2 linked regions of the Homo sapiens genome follow. The protein of the gene in region 1 purifies or fractionates together with the protein of each later gene. This does not show direct contact. Each region holds a gene or a part of one and is shown in the gene's direction. Other genes may lie near its edges.

Region 1 (5,463 bases):
AAGGCGGTTGGATTACTTAGGGCCAGGAGTTCGAGACCAGCCTTTAGTAGAGATGGTGAAACCCCATCTCTACTAAAAATACAAAAATTAGCCAGGCATGGTGCTGCACGTTTGTAATCCCAGTTACTCGGGAGGCTGAGGCAGGAGAATTGCTTGAACTCGGGACATGGAGGTTGCAGTGAGCCAAGACTGTGCCACTGCACTCCAGCCTGGGCCACAGAGTGAGACCTTATTTCAAAAAGAAAAAAAAGAAAGAAACAGAATGGGTGTTGGGACAGACAACTAATAGACAACTAAGTATCTGTCACATGGTTTCTAAAAAGATTCAATATGCTTGTTTTTGAGGTTTGCAGGGGAAGTAGGAAGGGGTGCACATCATTTTTTTGTTTAATAGAGACAGGATCTCATTCTCTCGTGCAGGCTTGAGTGCAGTGGCAAGATCACAGCTCACTGTAGCCTTGAACTCCTGTCCTAGAGTGATCCTCCCAGGAGCCTAGGCTTCCCAAAGCACTAGAATTACAGATGTGAGCCACCTTAAAGCACCATTTACAAAACTGCTTAGCATCTTGTTTAGAGCTAAAAAATCCTTTGCTCACAATCAGCTTTCTAGACTGGGCACCCAAGCCTTCTTCCTCTGAGGGTTGAACACCATAGAAGTGGGCTTAACAGACTTGTATGGAAAAGAGAAGAAGTCATCTCCCCAACTGACTCTTGGATGTCTCAGTGGCCAAGTATACTCAAATTGTATATCTAAACCAATGAGCTTTATTGTTGTGGTTAAGCTTTAACTGTGAACAGCAACGTATCAATTTATTAATTACTACGCTTTTGTGCTGTGTGTTCCCTTTCTAGGTTATTTCCAGGGAAATGCAAACCAAAGGATGTGGTCTCTGATCTAATCCTTAGAGAATGTGACCATGAAGACACTTTTCCTACCTGGTAAACAAAAGATAATGAGAAAAGTGAGGTTGGAAGTTGGTTTACTGAGCCAGGAGCTATAACAGGTGCTGGAGCAGGGGTGTGATCTGAATGACCAGAGGGAAGGACTGATGGAATTGGATGGTGAGAGCCTCCAGGCCCTTTAGGCTTCTCCCTGACTTTATAATGAAATACAAAAGTCAGCCTCCATGCTTGTCCTTTGTGTGTAATGATTGTCAAACTCTGTCTATATGTGTTACATTTGACCTTGATGGTTAATTCATTATGTAATAAGTTCAGAATTTGGGACAGACACAGTGGCTCATGCCTGTAATCCCAGCACTTTGGGAGGTCGAGGTGGGCGGATCATCTGAGGTCAGGAGTTCGAGACCAGCCTGACCAACATGGAGAAACCCTGTCTCTACTAAAAATACAAAAAATTAGCCAGGCGTGATGGCACATGCCTGTAATCCCAGCTACTCGGGAGGCTGAGGCAGGAGAATCGCTTGAACTCGGGAGGCAGAGGTTGTGGTGAGCCGAGATCGCGCACATTGTACTCCAGCCTGAGCAACAAGAGCGAGACTCCATCTCAAAAAAAAAAAAAATTTAGAATTTGGTCCAAATTAGAAAACAGTTTCTCCCAGGAATGGCCTTGAATAGTGGTCAGCCTGCTTGGTTCTTTCTTCCTGACCTAGCAGCCCATGATTTGGGCTCTTTCCTCCTCTGGTTCAGGGGTGAGGGATGCTGTCACTCTCCAAGAGGGGGAACAGCTTGGGACCTAGCAGAGCTGCTCATCGGGGTTCTATTCCTCCCAGCCAGCGCCCTGACAAAGCCAGCCTCTGGATAAGAAACTAATTACTTCTCCTGCTTCTTCAGTTTGACCTCCTAAGGGAAGTAAGTCCTGCAGAAGTAACCAGCCTGCCGCGGCAGAATGCAGAGCAGGCACCAACTGCCCTGCAACTGCTTCCATAACCTGCAGATCCACCAGGGTGTCGGGGGCCCACATGCTGCAAAGCTTAGGAAGATGGGGTTTTCAATGGACATGCAGCTTTTAAAGTTGTGTGAGATAGGTTGCATTCAGAGTAAGGAAGGGTTGAAAGGCAGGAAGGGCATTTTCCTCTTAGCAGTGGAAGGATCTTCCTGACAGCCCTCCTTGCTTGCTTTCTGCCTGGCTCACTGCTTTCTCAGCAAGTTCCGGGAGGACTATGTCCTGGGGTTCCGAAAAGGGCTGGGGAATGTCCAGGCACGGATAAGGCACACAAGCTCTCTGGAGGAAAAGGGAGGCTCCTTTGCACTTCCCCTTCCTGCAGGTCTGTCCTGGTTTTTCATGATGTCATCCATTCATCATTGTGAGCTGACTGGTGGTCCCAGGGCTTGGCCAGCTGCCCAAGGCCAGGAGGGGAGACAGAGATCCCAGGACAAATGTGCAGCAGGCCCCTGAGCATGTGTAGAAATGTTGTCATCATTTCCACATAGAAAGACTTGGAGGAAATCAAAGAAGACAGTAAAAGTCACAAGATCCTATCCAACCTTCCCTTCCCTGAATGCCTGGGAAGAATTCAGGGGCCTCTTGCCTGTGGATGGAGAGCCGAACCCTGGAGCGGGCCTAGGTGTGGAGGAGGGACTGCTCTGCCGGGTGGTTCATTCTCCAGAATTCAACCTGTTTCTTGACTCCGTGGTGTTTGAAAGCAACTTCATCCAGGTATTCTTGGGTGGCGCAGAATAGCACTCTTTGATTCTTCGAAACCTGTTCCCAAGATATGACTGAGAGAGTCCATCCCTGAAACTGGGGCAGAGTGAGAATTGAGGCAAGGAGAAGCTAGTGGACCTGGAATGCAAGGCCACCCTCACTGACCTGGGCTTTGCTGAGCCCCAGACGGGGCTTCTCCTACAGACAGCTGTCACCCAGGGAGAAAGGTCAGGGGTCCTCTGCTCTGAGTGGAGAATTTGGTATCTAATCCCCCAGTTTACTTCAGCCCCCAGGCTGTCACCTGAAGTAGATGAACAAAGAGGCAGTAAAAAGAGACGCTTCTTGAGAACAATAATGCGGATTGGCGAAAGAACAGCACCTGGGGTCCCAGAGACAGCTGGGCTCAGATTCCAGTCCTCTGCCTTCTCCTTGGGAGGTGACTGTGCAAGTAACCTGTGCAGCCTGAATCTGGCCCCTTGATTGTAAAAGGGTTGAACTGACCTGAGGATGAAATGCAAATACAGCAAGAAAAGTACCTTGTCTAACAGGCACTCGGTGCACGTTCGTCTCCTTGCCTGGGCTCTCCTCTGGTTGGATGGAAGCGAGAATGAACAGCACTTTGGAGTTAGAGAGGACCTTCCTGTTCAGTGAAGGTGCAGGAGATAATAGGGCACCTCGGGGAAGGACCAAGAGGATACATTTTTCAAAGAAGGCCAGGAAACAGTCCAGGGAGGATTGGCAGAAATGACAGATGGCAGGGAACTCCTGGGTTGTAATTCCTGTGGGCAATTGTTAACAAATGGGTGGTTGAAATATTGTTTAAATACTAGTAGTTGTTTAATCAATATAGTGGCTATCAACAAGAATTGATTTTTGGCCCCAACTGCCAGGGAACATTTGACGATGTCTGGAGACATTTTTTATTGTCACGATTTGGCTGGTAGTGCTACTAGAACTAGTAGGTAGAGGTCAAGGATGCTACTAAGCATTCTTTAGTGTGCAGGGCAGTATCCTACCCTCAACAAAGAATATCCAACCCAAAACATTAATAGTGTCGAGGTTGAGAAACCCTGGGCTGAAACAGACTGCAGCTTTTGCCAAATGCTCAGGTTGTGCCTGGGGGCTGTGTTGCAGGTCAAAAGGGGCAGGAATTGGAGAGACGTCTACAAAGCTTCCAACACCATGGCCCTGGGGGTGACCTCCTCGGTACCCTGCCTGCCCCTCCCCAACATCCTACTCATGGCCAGTGTCAAATGGCACCAGGGGCAGAACCAGACATGGAACAGACCATCCATAGCCCCCAACATCTTCCTGAAGAGGTGAGCAATGCAGATGAGAATGGAGGACAAGAGGGGTGAGGGGTGGATGCAAAGTGGAGGTTGCTTGACTACTAAACTCAAGGAGAAGATAGAGATGTCATCAGCAGTGACATTGATTTTTTTAGACAACAGAGTATCCTAAGACAGGTGTTGCACTGGAAGGACAGAGGCCAAGTGGGACAAAGGGAGATGTCATGTGGACAGGAGTCAGGGGCTAGTCTACCTGCCCACTTTCTTTCTCGCTGCACAGACGCCACTGAATTCATAGGAAATCTCTCAGCATTGGGCCCAAGGGCAAGGAGGCAGTGAGTCTGGCAGATGGAGCACTGGTTGGGGAAAGGAGATTATTTCTAGTTCTTGGTGTACAACTAACTGGACTCAATTTTTAAAATCACAAGTTATTTGCTGCTCCTCAGTTTTCTTTGTCTTTTTCTTTTTCTTTCTTTCTTTTTTTTTTTTTTTGAGACTGAGTCTCAAAAAAGACTATCGCCCAGGCTGGAGTACAATGGTGGGATCTTGGCTCACTGCAACCTCTGCCTCACAGGTTTAAGTGATTCTCCTGCCTCAGCCTCCCGAGTAGCTGGGATTATAGGTGCCTGCCACCACACCTGGATAATTTTTGTATTTTTAATAGAGACAGGGTTTCACCATGTTGGCCAGGCTGGTCTTGAACTCCTGACCTCAGGTGACCCACCCTCCTCAGCCTCCCAAAGTGCTGGGATTACGGGCGTGAGCCACTGTGCCCGGCCAGGTTTTTTTTGTTTTTTTTTTTTAATCAGTAAAATAAATGGGACTAAGTCTCACTTAGAGCTGTAGCATATAGTGACATCATGCTTGTCTGGGACGAAGTAGCCTTTTTAAATTTTGGGGCCTCTTTAAATAATCTGTAGGATATCTCAAGAATCTCTAGAAATTCCCAAAAGTCCAAGAAAACCCTTCATTTCTCCATGCTACCTCAGTGACACACCTCTCCATGATGTTCTTGGTGTACCTCTAGCAAGTACCACCCAGTCCCAGCTGACTAATATTAGATCCAAAGCCAGATCCTTGAACTTTAACTCCCTTGGGAAGACTAACTGTGGCATTAAACTCAATAAATGCACAAGCCAGACAGTGGGGCAAGCTCCTTTGGTGCTTTCAAGAAAGAAATTTTGGCTGGGCGCGGTGGCTCGTGCCTGTAATCCCAGCACTTTGGGAGGCAGAGGCAGGTGGATCGCCTAAGGTCAGGAGTTCGAGACCAGCCTGACCAACATGATGAAACCTCGTCTCTACCAAAAATAAAAAATTAGACGGGCCTGGTGGCACATGCCTGTAATCCCAGCTACTGAGGAGGCTAGGGCAGGAGAATCGCTTGAACCTAGGAGGCGGAGGTTGCAGTGAGCCAAGATCGTGCCATTGCACTCCAGCCTGGGCAACAAGAGCAAAACTTTGCCTCAGAAAAAAAAAAAAAAAAGAAAGAAAGAAAAGAAAAACAGAAAGAAATTGTAAAATCCTATGACTAGCCACCTTACCTCCTAGGCTGTCTCTCTCAAATAG
Region 2 (4,695 bases), on another chromosome or scaffold:
TGAAAAATCTGAAATGCTCCAAAGTGAAACTTTTTGAGTGTCAGCATGACAGCACAAGTGAATTCCACACCTGACCCCATGTAATGGGTCACTGTCAAAATTTTGTTTCATGCACCAAATGACTGTATGAAATTACGTTCAGAGTATATATGGTGTGTGTGAAACATAAATGAATTTTGTGTTTAAACTTGGATACCATCCCCAAGACATCTGAGTATGTATATGCAAATATTTCAAAATCTGAAATCTGAAACACTTCTGGTCCTACCTTGGGACCAGCATTTTAGATAAGGGATACTCAACCTGTATTGAATATAATAAGATGTCATTGAAGTTGCCATTTTTAACTTCAGGAAAATTTTTAAATGGTAAAAGGTTAATTAGATTCTGTGAAGTATGTAAATTAATTCTGACTCTTAAAGTATACTGGGAGAGGCAAGGAGTTGTCTAGAGATTTGGGTTCCAGTACTGCTGTTAACTAGGTCGGTGATGTCCAAGTATTTGGTAATGTAACTGTTTTATGTCTTAGTGGTTCTCTCTAAACAATAAAGATTGCAGTCAATATATATTAACTACCATTTATTAAACACTTGCTGTGTGTCCCAGGTGCTATGCCAAACATCTTACATAAAGGTTCCATCAAGCTCTAAAATTGTAGGTATGAAATATCCCTGTTAACCTTTTGAGGACATTAATGTATTAATCTTGAATCATTGAAATATCTTGCTGCCCACTTCAGGTATATTATAAAATTAGCTTTAATTCCCTGGACTTAAGCAGAGATGTGGGTTCTGTGTATTTTCAAACATCTGTGTTATATAGTAAGATGATGTTTGATATTTTAAAATATTTATCTTCCCTGTCCTCCCCCTGCTTTTTTTTTTATACAGCTACCTGTACTACAGAAACATGGAATAACCCATATAATATGCATACGACAAAATATTGAAGCAAACTTTATTAAACCAAACTTTCAGCAGTTATTTAGGTAAGAATTATTGCTATGATTTGTAAAACACTTAATGAAGTTTCATTTCAGGTTTTGTACCATCAGTTGTTTCTGTACATATCTAGTTTGTAAAAATGGGTCATATAGTACATAGTTTTTTAAAATAAATTTTACTTAAAATACTTAAATAAATTATGCCCATAATGCAGAATTCTAAAGGTTCAAAAGAGTGTATATTGTCAAGAAGTTTCTGGGAAAGTAAAAATAAAAAAGAATTTAAAAATAATGTATACTGAAAAATAGGTTTTAGTGTACATTATTTTATCTCTTGAGGGATAAAGGAATTGAGTATCTAGGGGATAGGTTTAGGGAAACAGCATCTACTGTTACCTCTTTATTGGGTAGTTTTTGAGTGTTAGGTTAAATTTATGAGCATAGTCTTATAGATAAATTTTTTTTTACATTGGCTTTCTTTTTTACTTTATATTTTTTGGAGATTGGTTTATATCGGTATGTATATCAAACTGCTTATTCTTTTTAAGTTGCATTGTAATCCATTGTATGGCTATACTAAAATTTATTCAATTAGTCTGTTAGATATTTAGATTGTTTCTGGCCTTGTACTAATATGTATAGCATATAGTGACTATCATTGTACATATTACTCAATTTATATGTGAGCATATTGATAGGGCTTATTTGCAGAATTGCTGGATATAAGAGTATGAACATTTTAAATTTTGATAGATGTTGCAGATTGTTTTCCAGTGCGTTGTATCAGTGTACATTCCCATTATCAAGTATGTGAGAGTGACTCTTCCCTTAGTATCTCTCCAAGACGGAATTGTGAAACATTTTTAATTTCTCAAAGTCTAATGGAGTAAAAATGGTATCTCATTTGATGTTCTTATTTATCTTGTAAGTTCAGTTGAGCATGTAATGGTTTTTAATGTTCTTTATTTTAACTTCATTTTTAAAATAGAGTATATTACGCATGGTACAAAAGTGAAAGGATATGTAAACATATATAATGAAAGTAACTCTACTTTTTCTCTTAACCCAAGCCACCTTGCTCCTATCCTGGGAGGCAGCTTCTTCCTTCAATATCTATGTAAAAGTATATATGTTAAAAATATTTTAGGCCAGCACGGTGGCTCACGCCTGTAATCCCAGCATTTTGGGAGGCCGAGGTGGGCAGATCACCTGAGGTCAGGAGTTCGAGACCAGCCTGGCCAACATGGCAAAACCCCATCTCTACTAAAACAAAAATTACCTGAGCGTGGTGGCACATGCCTGTAATCCCAGCAGCTCAGGAGACTGAGGCAGGAGAATTGCTTGAACCCAGAAGGCAGAGGTTACAGTGAGCCGAGATCACACCACTGCACTCCAGCCTGGGCAACAGAGCAAGACACCGTCTCAAAAACAAAACAAAACAAAACAAAAAAAAAACAGCGCTGTGGCTTACACCTATAATCCCAGTACTTTGGGAGGCTGAGGAGGGTGGATCACGAGGTCGAGATTGAGACTGTCCTGGCCAACACAGTGAGACCCCGTCTCTACTAAAAATACAAAAATTATCTGGGCGTGGTGGCACATGCCTGTAGTCCCAGCTACTCAGGAGGCTGAGGCAGGAGAATCACTTGAACCTGGGAGGCAGAGGTTTCAGTGAGCCAAGATTGCCCCACTGCACTCCAGCCTGGCGACAGAGCAAGACTCTGTCTCAAAAATAAAAAAAAAAATTTAATGCTCTGCTTTATTTTTACAATGAAACCAATCTATAAATATCTGTAAATACAAGATACATACTCTAAAATACATTGTGTGAACATATAATAGAATACTATGTAACCATGAAAAAGAATGAAATATATGTATGTGTTTGGATTTGGGATGATCTCCAAGATAATGCATTACATGAATAAAGCAGGGTGTGGAACAATGTATATATTTGCAATGTGTTGAGTAAATATATATATACTACATTCCATATATTTATTCTTAATATATGCATAGAAAATTTCTGGACCAAGAGGCTAGAAACTTCATAGTGATTGCTTCTAAGAAGGAAAATTCAGGGCCTGTGATGGTAGAGGGACGTATTTTTCTTTCGTTTTTAATTTTGTTTTTTTTTGTTGTTGTTGTTTTTTTTTTTTTTTTGAGATGGAGTCTCACTCTGTCACCCAGGCTGGAGTGCAGTGGTGTGATCTTGGCTCACTGCAACCTCTGCCTCCTGGGTTCAAGCGATTCTCCTGCCTCAGCCTCCTGAGTAGCTGGGATTACAGGCATGTGCCACCACACCCAGCTAATTTTTTTTTTTTTTTTTTTTTTGGACAGAGTTTCGCTCTGTTGCCCAGGCTGGAGTGCAGTGGCATGATCTCGGCTCACTGCATCCTCCGCCTCCCAGGTTTAAGCAATTCTCTGCGTCAGCCTTCTAAGTAGCTGAGATTACAGGTGCCCACCACCACTCCCAGATAATTTTTTTTGTATTTTTAGTAGAGACGGGGTTTCAGCATCTTGGCCAGGCTGATCTTGAACTCCTGACCTCTTGATCCACCTGCCTCAGCCTCCCAAAGCACTGGGATTACAGGTGTGAGCCACCGCACCTGGCCTAATTTTTGTATTTTTAGTACAGACGGGGTTTCACCATGTTGGCCAGGCTGGTCTCGAACTCCTGACCTCGTGATCTGCCCACCTCGGCCTCCCAAAGCACTGGGATTTACAGGCGTAAGCCACTACGCTCAGCCGAGGGACATATTTTTCATGGTACCCTTGATATCCATGGGGGATTGCCTCCAGGAACCCCCATGAATAACAAAATCCTCAGATGCTCAAGTCCCTTATATAAACTGGTGTAATATTTGCATATAACCTGTGCACATTCTCTCATATACATTAAATCATCTCTAGATTACTTCTAATACTTAGTACAGTGTAAGTGCTGTGTGAATAGTATTGGATTTTATTTTTATTATTTTTAGTGTTGTATTTTACCTTATTTTTTGTTAATGTTTTTTATTGTTGTCGGTTGAATCCACAGGTATGAAATTCTTGGATATGGAGGGCTGACTCTTTACTTTTGTAGTGTTTTTTTTTTACACCATATTTAGTTTATTAAAACTAGTTATTAAAAAGGAATATCCCAAAACACTGATTTTTTTTTTTTTTTTTTTTTTTTTTTGAGACAGAGTCTCGCTCTGTCATCCAGGCTAGAATGCAGGGCTCACTGCAACCTCTGCCTCCCAAGTTCAGGCAATTCTTCTGCCTCAGCCTCCTGAGTAGCAGAGATTACAGGCATGTGCCACCACGCCTGGCTAATTTTTGTATTTTTAGTAGAGACGGGGTTTCACCATGTTGGTCAGGCTGGTCTCAAACTCCTGACCTCGTGATCCGCCTGCCTTGGCCTCCCACAGTGCTGGGATTACAGGCGTGAGCCACTGCGCCCGGCCTGAATTTTTTATAATTATGAAAGAAATACTTTTTTTTTTTTCAAAGATAGGATCTTTCTCTGCTGCCCAGCCTGGATTGCATTGGCATGATTTCTGTTCATTGTAGCCTTGACCTCCCAGGCTCAAGCAATCTTCCTGCCTCAGCCTTCCAAGTAGCTGGGACTACAGGTGCACCACCGGATCGGGCTAATTTTTTTTTTTTTTTTCTAGAGATGGGGTTTTGCTGTGTTGCCCAGGCTGTTCTTGAACTCCTGAGCTTAAGCGATCTACCCACCTCAGCCTCCCAAAGTGCTGGGGTTA

The links. Proteins that work in one complex are often made in the same cells at the same time.
Region 2: the proteins of GARIN1B (region 1) and STYX purify together in Homo sapiens (affinity purification with mass spectrometry; one large-scale study listed by BioGRID and IntAct). This does not show direct contact.

Annotation. Positions count from the first base shown.
Region 1 is NC_000007.14:128,713,071-128,718,533, forward strand, and holds the start of GARIN1B (Golgi-associated RAB2 interactor protein 1B), read left to right. Parts: upstream 1-2,320; 5' UTR 2,321-2,371; coding exon 2,372-2,620; intron 2,621-2,629; exon of another isoform or gene 2,630-3,261; intron 3,262-3,742; coding exon 3,743-3,927; intron 3,928-5,463. UniProt on the Homo sapiens protein: RAB2B effector protein required for accurate acrosome formation and normal male fertility. In complex with RAB2A/RAB2B, seems to suppress excessive vesicle trafficking during acrosome formation.
Region 2 is NC_000014.9:52,749,793-52,754,487, forward strand, and holds part of STYX (serine/threonine/tyrosine-interacting protein), read left to right. Parts: intron 1-890; coding exon 891-988; intron 989-4,695. UniProt on the Homo sapiens protein: Catalytically inactive phosphatase. Acts as a nuclear anchor for MAPK1/MAPK3 (ERK1/ERK2). Modulates cell-fate decisions and cell migration by spatiotemporal regulation of MAPK1/MAPK3 (ERK1/ERK2).